Homo sapiens: one gene and its partner. The protein of the gene in region 1 interacts with the protein of each later gene in a biochemical or structural test. Each region holds a gene or a part of one and is shown on either strand. Other genes may lie near its edges.

Region 1 (7,123 bases):
TTCCCACCAGAGGCTGCGGTCCTGAGGGAGGCGGCCATGGAGAGCTGGCTGCCAGGCGAGAGGCACTTACCCAGGTGCAGGAAGTCGGCGCTGCAGGATGGGGGCGGAGCACTGTGGGCAGACGGGAAGGATGGTGGGACGGTCACAGAGTCCGAATTGAGAAATTCGCCGAAGAGATCAGGATTGGAGCAGGGCTGGGAGTTGTTGCCTGAAGACGGCAGAAGCGGGCCAAAGGGGTCAGCTGTGGGGACAGGCGGGCATGGGGAGGACTCAGCCCGGCTGCCTGAAGACAAAGGAGCCCAGCTCTGGAGTCAGGCCTGCCCAAGAGGCCACTCCAGCTGGGCAGCCCAGACCCCACGGCTGCCCTCGCAGGGGCACTGAGGCAGTCAGCCCAGGGGCTCCCCGTGCCCCACGCCTCAGGATGACTTTCCCAGGGACACAGCAACACTGCTGAGATGGAGAAGCCAGTAGCTCCCGGCCCGTGAGCTCAGGTGGGCAGCACAGAACCCTGACATGACCCCGAGGCTGCTCCTGGGGGAGGTGGGGGAAGGGCACGTTCCCTTCCTGCAAGCACCTTCGAAACACGCCCATGCAGTGAGAATGACTCAGCCTCATCACTCATCTACTGTGAAGCCACTCGCCTTCAGAACAGAAACACGTACCAGCGGCAGGGGGCCCTCCTCTTGGGGTGCTCTGCACGCTCAGGGGAGGGGCCGGGCTTGCCAGGAGCAGCGGGTCCTCGCTGAGCAGATCCTCCGGGGGCCCCTGGGAGGCGGCCTCAGGGGGCCCAAGGAGGCAGCTGAGCAGGTCGGTGTTGCTGGAGGGGGCCTTGCAGGCCTGCGGGGGTACAGCTGGCCCTGCGCCCACCTCGGAGTGCAGGCCCAGGAGGTCGACCCCGTCTTCCTGTGGCACAGGCTCTGGCAGCACAGCCGGTGTCTCCACCTCAAAAACCAAGTCCTGCTGCACCAGCCCTGCTGCCAGGCCGGGGGGCTCTGGGTCGGCCCTGGGTTCCTGGCCCTCGCTGGAGATCGGGGATCCCCCTTCATCTGACACCTCACTCTCGTCTCTGTCCTCCATCAGGGCAGACTCGCTCTCCTTGGAAGAGGCATTTTCTGCACCAGTCTCTGCCTCCTTCTCTTCTGCGAAAAGGAAACAAAACCACAGGCTAGTGAGACCACACGGCCAGCACCAGGGTCCCCACGGCGCGTCCCTTCAGGGCCTCCTCGGCCCAGGGCCTTGGTGAACACACGTGGCCAGCACCAGGGTCCCCACGGCGCGTCCCTTCAGGGCCTCCTCGGCCCAGGGCCTTGGTGAACACACGTGGCCAGCACCAGGGTCCCCATGGCATGGCCCCTCGGCACCTCCTCGGCCCAGGGCCTTGGCAAGTGCTGCAGGAACACCAGGGTCCCCACGGCGCGTCCCCTCAGCCCAGGGCCTTGGCGAACCCACATGGCCAGCACCAATGTCCCCATGGCACGGCCCCTCAGCGCCTCCTTGGCCCAGGGCCCTGGCGAGTGCTGCAGAAGCTTCTGGGCGGGCGGTGGGGTGTTGTTCCTGAGGCGTCTCCAGCACACCCACCTCCAGCCTCTGCCTCAAGGGTCTGCCTGTGGCTCTCTCCGCCTGGGCCTCTGCGGTGCCTCAGGCTGAGTCAAGTGGGGGCCACATGGCAGCACTAGGGGGTAGGAACACCAATCAAGGGTGCTCTGGGAACAGGCGGCAGAAGGGACGAGCCCGATGGGAAGGCCAGGGGTGCTGGGACAGGAAGTGGCAGGTGCATCCCTTGGGGTGTGTCTGGGGTGAGGTCCAGTGATGGCGCCCAGGTGTTTTCCTGAAAAGCCTCAGAGGGGCTGGGAGCCCACTGGGGGTGTGGGCAAAGAGAGGTGTGGGATCCCCAGGTGGTGACAGTCTGTCCCTCCGCCCAGGCCCTTCCCCTGTACCCAGGGGCCCCGCCAGCATGGCCCATGCTGCCAGCCTCCCCAGGCCCACAGACTGGGATGAAGAGCGAGGGTTGTTATTTCAGACTTTGTGGGCATGTTCTTTTTTTTTCACCTTTAAAAAGATATGAAATCATTCTTAGCTCGTGAGCCATTAAAGAACAGGCTGACATGCCGGGTGCACAGCCCCACTGAGGTGCAACTCAGCTCTGCCGGAGGCCCGTCTCCCAAGACGCTTGCCCTGCCCCAGGGGCACCTCCAGACCAGGGGCCTGCCCTCTGCAAGTGGCCAGGTCCAGGGACGCTGCCTACCCTGCCAGTCCAGCGTGTGCAGGAAGCGACTGGCGTCCGCGCTGCTGCTTGGCGGTGAGTCAGAGTCTGTGGGTTCGGCTTCCGGGGACCCTGCCCCAGCATCATACTGAGCCGTGGAGCCAGGCTGCCGGGGAAGCTCCGGCTTCCCTGCAGGAGAGGGAGGGCGTCAGGGCACTGGCACTGGCCAGCAGCCTCGGGGCAACACTGACCCCAGAGCTGGGAAGTGCAGCCAGGCGGGCGCCAGCACCGTGGCAGGCCAGGCCATCGGTAAAGCAGACCAATGACATGACGGGGAGGGGCTCTCTGAACAGATTCCTGCTATCCACTCGGATGCCACTCTGGGCCATGCGTGCACACTTGGGCACAGCACACGCACACATGAACACGCACAAGGAACCCACCACTGAGGCATCAAACGCCACACATATGCAGGGTACACATGAATGCACACACACAGCTGCACGGTACACACGAATGCATAGAGCACACACACAGGCGCACAGTACACACAAATGCACACACACAGATGCAGGGTACACACGAATGCACACACAGCACACACAGATGCACAGTATACACGAATGCACAGACAGCACACACATAGATGCAGGGTACACATGAATACACACAGCACACACAGATGCACAGTACACATGAATGCACACACAGATGCATGGTACACACGGATGCACAGACAGCACACACACAGATGCAGGGTACACATGAATGCACACACAGCACACACACAGATGCACAGTACACATGAATGCACACACAGCACACAGATGCACAGTACACACGAATGCACACACAGCACATACACACATGCAGGGTACACACGAATGCAAAGCACACACAGATGCACGGTACACATGAATGCACACACAGCACAAATGCACAGTACACAGGAATGCACACACAGCACACACAGATGCATGGTACACAGGAATGCACACACACAGATGCACAGTACACACGAATGCACACACAGCACATACACACATGCAGGGTACACATGAATGCACACACACAGATGCACAGTACACACGAATGCACACACAGCACATACACACATGCAGGGTACACATGAATGCACACACACAGATGCACAGTACACACGAATGCACACACAGCACATACACACATGCAGGGTACACATGAATGCACACACAGCACACACAGATGCACAGTACACATGAATGCACACAGTACACACAGATGCACAGTACACACGAATGCACACACAGCAGAGATGCATGGTACACACAAATGCACACACACAGGCACAGTACACATGAATGCACACAGCACACATAGATGCAGGGTACACATGAATGCACGCACACAGATGCACGGTACACACACATGCACACACTCGGATGCACAGTACACATGCATGCACACACACAAATGGACGGTACACACGAACGCACACACAGCACATACCGATGCATGGTACACACGAACGCACACACAGCACACACAGATGCACTGTACACACGAATGCACACAGCACACAGATACACAGTACACATGAATGCACACACCACTCGTGCACACACACACACGGCACACACCACCCACGGACACATACACAGCACGCACAGGTCACACATACAGCCTCTTTCAGGGACGCTGAAGATGCTCAGAAAGAAAAAGCAAACACTGCAAACCAAGAGCCGAGAACAAGCGTGGCATGAGCAGTGGACGGCCCTGGGCCCACCTGCCAGCACTTCCTGGGCTGCCGTTTCGAAACTGCTCGGAAGTGAAGAGCGACAGGAGCGAGGGTTCTGTTCCACATGCTGCCAGCAGGCCTGAGGCTCACAGTGAGAGTGGACGTGTGTCCAGCACACATGACAAAAATCTGACCCAGACACACGCCTGGGACAAAACCCCGCTTCGCTCCAGGAGCCTGGGTTTTCCTCCCTCTGCCTCCGTCCCTGCCCATGGGCCTCAGAAATTGCAGCCTGCGAGTCCTTCTCTGGTGTAGCTGGTGGTGGTGTCCAACATCCACGACGGAGTTTCCAAAACCTCCTGCAGCCCAAGCTGCTCAGGGCCTGGGTGCAGCAGCAGGCGTGGGGCCCAGCCCTGCCAGAGCTCAGCCAAAGGTGTCTCTCTCCACAGAGACACTCACCAGAACAGGGTTCACCTAATTCACCTGCGGGATCTTACCAAACTTAGACAGAATGTCTTGCTGCTCCTCCCGGCTGGAAAACAGGATTTTGGGGTTCAGCCCCCTCATGCTCGAGTTCTCCCATGGTGGGGCTTCCCGGCTCGGCCTGTCCCTGGGCTCCACCTCCACTTCCAGGTTCACTTGAAATAAATCCGGGTATTTTTCTTGAATGTCACACGCGTCCAGGTCATACCTGCGGTTACAAGTAGACACCACTTAGGAAGGCCACCCAAGTAGTCTGTAAGTCCTTGGACATTCACTAAAGAAACGTGCATGGAAACAGGTGGCAGCTGCAGGCAGCGGGGCGAGAACAACCAGGGCAGCCGGCCACCCCCGCCTGCGGAAGCTGGAGCCCTGTGAGCTGACCCAGCAGCTGTCCCAGGAACCCACAGGGCACCAGCACCCCCGGTCACGGCCCCAGAAGAGCATCATTTCACTCGCTCCTCGGACGTCACAGTGGGGATGCCCGCGACTGTGTTCAAGGCAGAGGGGCACCGGGCGGGGCCGCCATGTTTCCTGCAACTCCAGGGGAGGCCACGTGCTCAGAGCAGACGGGACAACATCCCACAGCTGGAGACTCCGGCACCCAGGCAGGCAGCTCTGAGGTGGGACCCCAGGGTTCCAAGGCAGGCGCTGGCCCTCACTACCCAGCACACACAGACTGCAGCCACCCGGCAGCTCAGAGCACGCACTCTGGGATACTAAATGTGTTTTCCATAAAAATGACGACGTCCGCCCTGACAAAAATCCACAACTGTCAACAGATGCCCATAAAACCAAGACCTCTAGAATCCGGCTGCCAGGGAATTGGGAACATGATTCCGGGGGAAACAAAGCTGTGTTCACTGTGGGGCTGGGGAGGCAGCCCAGGCTGAGCTGTGGGGAGCAGGGCAGAGGTCAGCAGGGCCTGCCTTGGGGTGTCGGCCGTGCGGGTGGGGAGCAGGGCAGGGGTCAGCAGGGCCCACCTTGGGGTGTCGGCCATGTGGGTGGGGAGCAGGGGCAGGGGTCAGCAGGGCCCGCCTTGGGGTGTTGGCCGCACGGGGAGGCAGGTGTGACCTGACACTGACCATTTCCCAGCCCCACAGCTCTCTAAGGAATTCCAGGCTATTTCACACATTTCCTATGATCATCTCTGATCCCACTGTCATAAACTGCACTGATAAGCCTGGGCTCTCCAGCGGGCAGCAGGCTCCCCATGCCTGTCTTATTTTACGCCACCTAAAATCTCTACATGTTGAATGTTATACACCTAAGAAAATAAAGAAGAAACACAAAAGAGTGGCGGCCAGTTCCTGGGAAACCCAGGCTGCCAGTGTCTGCAGGGCCAGGAACACCCAGAGCAGAGTGGGATCCGCCGAGGGAGGGCAGGGAGACGGGCCCGGCGGCCTGTGTGGGTCAGAGCCACGGCTGGTTTTAACTGTCACTTCTCTGAGCTCCACACATGCCTGTGATGTGTGAAAGGCCTCTAGTTCACCCCTTCCTGCTCACCCTCTAAAACATCCTCTCCCTGCACGAGGGGAGAGCACCCTGTGCCCGCCCTGAGGGGTGGCCAACCTCACGCAGAGCAGCGCCCCCTCAATGCCCACTCAAGGCTCTGGGCGGAGGTGGCCACGGCCGAAGCCGGGACTGATGTGCACTCCAGCCGGGGCCAACACGAGCTTCCCCCTGCGCCCGAGCCTCTTTGCGTGCCGCTGTCTGTCGTCAGGGGTGGCAGGGACTGCACAGCGGTGGCACAGCTGGCGTGGAGATGTGGAGGAGGCAACGTCTGCAGAGGAGCCTGCAGGCACCAGCAGAGAATCCGACGGCCACCGCAGCGGAGGCTCAGACCGGCCACGACCGAGGGCGGAGAGGCACAGTGGGAGGGGCACGGAGGGAGGGAGTGTGCAGGGAGCCAGGTCGGCCAGACGGGCTTGGGTCCTGGGACAGACCGAACTTGGGCAGCCCCAGAGGGAGTGCCGCTCATGCCCAGCCTCCCTCCCCCAGCTGCCCCTTGAGATGGCCCTGGGCACTGGGCCTGCAGGCTCGGCTCACCCAGCCTGGCGCTGAGGGCACAATGAGGTCTGTGAGCAGGGCTGGCCACTCCCGAGAGCCCTGGACTGCAGAGGACACTGCCCGCAGGCTCCTGCCAGACTAGCTCCAACAGGGCAGAGCGGACTCCTGACAGGCTCAGCTGTTACATCTGTGCCATGGCTGCAACCCTGTGCTCCTCTCGCCCAGGCACGGCGCAGGCTCACCACGCAGGGAACACGCCTCTCGCCCAGGCACGGCGCAGGCTCACCACGCAGGGAACACGCCTCTCGCCCAGGCACGGCGCAGGCTCACCACGCAGGGAACACGCCTCTCGCCCACAGCGCAGCCTTGATCTCGCAGGTTCAAGCAATCCTCCTGCCTCCCAAAGTGTTGGAATTACAGCTGTAAGCCACTGTGCGCAACCAACCTTTCTTCCTTTTAATGTATGCATTTGAAGTTACACATTTCCTCTAAACCCTGCTTCAGATGCACCCCACACATCTGGTAAGTGGTATTTTGATTATCAATGTGTTTAAAATATTTTCTCATTTCAACAGTGATTTCCTTTTTGGCACACAGGTCACTTAACGAGCATACGGTCTCTGGGTGTTTTCCTGTCACTGATTCCCACTTTAATCCACTGTTGAGATGCCTTGAGACTTGCTGTATGACCCAACGTGGAGTCCACTTTAATA
Region 2 (4,922 bases), on another chromosome or scaffold:
GCGCCACTGCACTCCAGCCTGGGTGACAAGAGTGACCCTGTCTCAGAAAAAACAAAAAGTAAAGTGTCAGCTAATAGTCATACTATTAATAGGGATTTTATTGTTTCTGGTACTATGCATCTAACTTTAGTACTAAATTTAAATATACTGGGTAGAGAGAGCTTTTTATAATGTTTCAGAAAAAACAAAACAAAGTGTCAGCTAATAGTCATATTATTAATGGGGATTTTATTGTTTCTGGTACTATGCATCTAACTTTAGTACTAAATTTAAATATACTGAGTAGAGAGAGCTTTTTATAATGTTTCAGAAAAAACAAAGTAAAGTGTCATCTAATAGTCATATTATTAATAGGGATTTTATTGTTTCTGGTACTATGCATCTAACTTTAGTACTAAATTTAAATATACTGAGTAGAGATAGCTTTTTATAATGTTCTGTTAACACATTGCTAAAAGAGTTAATTAAATCAGAGGAGAAAAAAGCCACCCAGCAAAGGATTGAATTTCATTAACTTTATTGAAAGGTATATCCCTTAGTACTAAAACATAATGGTAGTTGGTTAGTTTACCTCTGCCAACTCAAAATTAACAATGATGTATTCAAAATATTGAAATTTATCAGCCTTTTGGGAAAACTAAAAAGTTACCCATAAAACATGGTTTACAAAAGTTAAGAATAAGATATACTGTGGTTCTTTGGTTTTTCATTGTGTACTGATCCATAACGTGATGTCAAATTGGATATAGCCATCATGGATAGACTCAGGCTATACATTGCACTGAGTAACTGTTTACAACACTTTAACACTGTACTTCTTACATTCACTAACTGCCATGGAGGATCCTAAACACTACTTCAGCAGCTTCATTCATAGTTATGAAGGTGTCTACTTGCTTTTCTTAAGATTTTTGTTTTGGCACAGTAAGGGCATCAGTGGAAGTATATTCTCTATTTATAAAATTGCCATCACTTCTAACTTAAAAACAGTCTGTAGTAAAAAATTCTGGAGTGTTCAATCTAGTCTGAACTTACCTTAGTGTGGGAAAGCAAGTTTTCGAAGTGATAATTTATTTTGAGTTACTAATACAATAGAAACTAGTTTTCTTGATGGGATTCAGTTTGAGGCAGTAGGTTCTGTATAAAAATTTTTATCGTAGATACAAATGTCACCTGTTTTCTAGAAAAAAATATTAAAAGATAACTTAATGAATATGCCAAACTTTATAGGTCTGTATTTTTCTTTATATAAAATGCCCTCAAATTTAAATGTAATTCCCATATAGCAATAAAGTCCACATCTCTAGATTACCTATTACTTGCATTATGGGGTGTGTTTATACTGCCTAGAATGTTAACCCTTATTATGCCTTAAAAGTACATTTGTGAAATGTTGCTTTTGACATAAACCTCATAACTTAAAATTTAAGTAGGAGTAGGATTAGAATAATGACAGTGATTGAAGCTGTGGGAAGACTGATAGTTGATAGTATTAGTGTGACTCCTCCAATAGCATTTTCAATACCACCTAAATATATTGATCCAATATCTAAAGTTAGATCAATGATAGAAATGAAGATTCACAGTTTACCTTCTCAGGCTTGTCATTAGCATTTCACATTTAGGCTTTTAGCTTTGATTTGAATGCTTCACAGATGAATTCAAATCTAAACATAATTCCACTACAGCATAATATTAGGCAGTTTTCCCAAGTCTGAGACCATCATGCTTATCTCGTGATGTTTTGAGGCTTCATAGCTTAAATCCATTGTAACATTATGGAATCCATAGAACAAGGTTGTGGAGAAAGGCTTCAGAGAAGTTTTTTGGTGCTGTAATAATCCTATTTAAATAAAGAAAACAAACAAAATCCAACTTAACAGAAGCCAGTCTGCCTAAATACTACTAAGAAAATTGAAATGTTCATATCTAATATTCATAATCACATGTAGATGTATTAAATGTTAACATTTAGTTTTGAGTAGAATAAATCATCACTGAGTTAGGAAATTTATATGGCAAGAATGTATATCACATATGCAGAAAGCAAGTTTACATTTTTTATGCATATAACTACTTTGCAGTAGTCCAGCTGCTATAGCAATGATAGGTTAGTATAGTGTTGACACACTCTGGCAGTTTCCAGATACCCAATGTAGAGACCATCTATCATATCCTACTTTTTTTCTTTTTTTTTTTTTTTTTGTGGCGGAGTCTTGCTCTGTCGCCCAGGCTGGAGTGTAGTGGCGCGATCTCAGCTCACTGCAAACTCCGCCTCCCGGGTTCCCGCCATTCTCCTGCCTCAGCCTCCCGAGTAGCTGGGACTACAGGCGCCCGCCACCGCGACTGGCTAAATTTTTTTGTATTTTTTAGCAGAGACGGGGTTTCACCATGTTGGCCAGGATGGTCTCGATCTCCTGACCTCGTGATCCGCCCGCCTTGGCCTCCCAAAGTGCTGGGATTACAGGCGTGAGCCACTGCATCCGGCCTACTTTTTTTTCTTTTAAGTACAATATCCAAGTTCATATTGATTTTGCTTATAAGCTAACAGTCTCAAATTAGTTCATACTTGGTTCAGACTTTTGGTGCTGTTGTCCTGCTCAGCTTATGTAATTTTAAATCAGTCAGATACATACAGCAAGATCATGTGCAATTAAAAAAAAGCATGATTTTAGTGCTACAAGGAGGATGCTGTTCTCTAAGCTGAAAATTTAATGAAATGGCTAACGTATGTATCAGAGGTTGGATAATTCCTTACTCCTAAGATGTTGTACCTTGTATATAGTAAAGGCCTTCAAATATTAGCTGACTAGATCAGTGATGTCATCTCCCCCTTTACTATTCCAACTCCATTTTGTTTATTTTGAAGATAATTACTCTTCTTTAGTTGAAAATTATGGCATTGGAAAATGTTCTCTATCTGGAGAATAATAACGGACCAAATTTACCAGTTAAGGGACCATTTCAGGAATTGTTGGAAGGTGAGTTATTCTGTAGTAGCTATGCTTCAATTGCCGTGCAGTACGCCCAGAAACAATCCATTTCAACTTCTGAACATTTGGTTTGGAACACTTATTTGATGAATATTCAGTTAAACATTTGGATACAAGCTCTTGCCAGAAGGTCAGATCTCTGCCATTTATCTGTACATACATAAATTTTAAAAAATTATTACTCCAAGTAAGTCCCACCTTATTTAACTACATTAATAAATGCAATCCTATGAACATGTGTCTTTGCTCATTAAAAACATTTGAGGATAGCTACTTAAGTTTCAAATAAACATATGACATCTCATTTTACTTCAGGAGATAGAAGGGGTTTAGTTTCTTTTACAGCTGTTAATAGGATTTAGGCTATGTCCTTCACATACCTTGGAATGTTTCTGAAGACATTCTATTCCTTCTGTTAACTCTACACACTTCTGTGCTTGGATCTCTAATGCAATGATAGACAATGCCAACACAGAAGGCTAAAAGAGATAAATTTAAAGTAAATGCCAAATATAAAAACAGATCATATCAATAGGCATAATCTTTATAAAATATTTACCTTTGCTTTAGAAAATATGATCCTGCAATGACATGCCTTCAGTTGAGCTTCTAGTCTTTCAAAATTAATGCTATTTCTCCTTTAAAAAGAAAATGGTATTACTTTTATTAGGTAATACTACATCTAGTCAAAAGATGTTTTTAGAAAAACATTGAAGTCAATTTTTAAAGTAAAGCTTATGCACACTTAACATAGCAAATGAACTATTGAAAGGAATTCCCCTTCCATCAGAGATACTAACTTCTAAAGGCACCATATGGGAGTTTTAGATGATTTGGGCCAAAAAATTAAAATGAATAGTACTATGCCACAAATACAAGATTTATTTTCTTTTAGTTTTAATAAATATTTCAACATCCACTGAAGGTCCTTTTTTTCCATAAATTTGTGTTAGATGCTTTCCTACTAGGTTCTATAAAGTCAAAATGTACTTTAATCCCAAGAATTAGCTTTAACGAAGCTATTGACAATGGAACATTTTCTCACTTATGATGGACATTAAAGTTCAAGGAGCCACAGCTGTCATTTTACTTATTTTTATTAGAATTCTATGAGGATACTGATTTTATGCAATATCCATACAATACCATTCTGATTTCCAAATGTCTCTTGTTCAAAACAAAGGTCACTTACCTTTCAAGTGGCAAGTTCTCTTGAAGGAGTGAATAATACAGTTGCAGAAATTGAAAGGCAGTAGTAGCTTTGACTTTCCAACACACCTTCTCCAATACAATCTTTTCCATTCTCATCAAGTCTGAAACCGTAAACCTATATTGACTTATTCGGATCAAGTCAGTTGCCAATGGGACATTCCTTTCCTCTTCTATTGATTTTACAGCCAAATAAAAGCAGCTCAGTCCAACACACCCAAGGTGCTTGGGCTGTACCTAAAAAATCAAAAACAAAACCAGTAAGCCCATGACTCTACCTTATTTCAATTAAAACATAAAGGATAATCTAGAACTCCGACCCAACATTTTGAAAATGTATATTTGAGGTTTATTTCTCAGCTGTGATGGACTTAACACAATCCACTCATACCTAAACTATAGCCTGTCAACACTATGGACCCCACTTAGAACCAATTTTTGAGTAACTGGACTGAGTTTCAGTATAATGTTTGGCTCAGCATAGAAAAAGTGTGTTTTTATTAATCACTGTAGAACTATAAGTAAACATTGTTCTAGTTTGATCAAATAAGTTAACTAGTCAAAGATATATGAGGACTGAAATACTTTATGGCTTATTTACAAAATAAGCCATTTCTTTGCAGGATGTTGTATTTTTTCCAGGCTCTTGTCTTTGTGGGAACACATATAAAACAGTTTTAAAATACTATGGCATATACTGTTTACTCTGCCTCTAAGAGT

Evidence for each region. The genes of interacting proteins can lie anywhere in the genome.
Region 2: the proteins of GAK (region 1) and CCNG1 form a complex in vitro, tested with the Homo sapiens proteins (one study listed by BioGRID).

What each region holds. Positions count from the first base shown.
Region 1 is NC_000004.12:866,294-873,416, forward strand, and holds part of GAK (cyclin-G-associated kinase), read right to left. Parts: exon of another isoform or gene 7,008-7,123; intron 6,933-7,007; exon of another isoform or gene 6,775-6,932; intron 4,612-6,774; coding exon 4,418-4,611; intron 2,393-4,417; coding exon 2,246-2,392; intron 1,140-2,245; coding exon 663-1,139; intron 242-662; coding exon 71-241; intron 1-70. UniProt on the Homo sapiens protein: Associates with cyclin G and CDK5. Seems to act as an auxilin homolog that is involved in the uncoating of clathrin-coated vesicles by Hsc70 in non-neuronal cells. Expression oscillates slightly during the cell cycle, peaking at G1.
Region 2 is NC_000005.10:163,440,595-163,445,516, reverse strand, and holds the end of CCNG1 (cyclin-G1), read right to left. Parts: intron 4,440-4,922; coding exon 4,186-4,439; intron 3,632-4,185; coding exon 3,553-3,631; intron 3,473-3,552; coding exon 3,374-3,472; intron 3,144-3,373; coding exon 2,952-3,143; coding exon of another isoform or gene 2,949-2,951; intron 1,844-2,948; coding exon of another isoform or gene 1,777-1,843; 3' UTR 501-1,776; downstream 1-500. UniProt on the Homo sapiens protein: May play a role in growth regulation. Is associated with G2/M phase arrest in response to DNA damage. May be an intermediate by which p53 mediates its role as an inhibitor of cellular proliferation.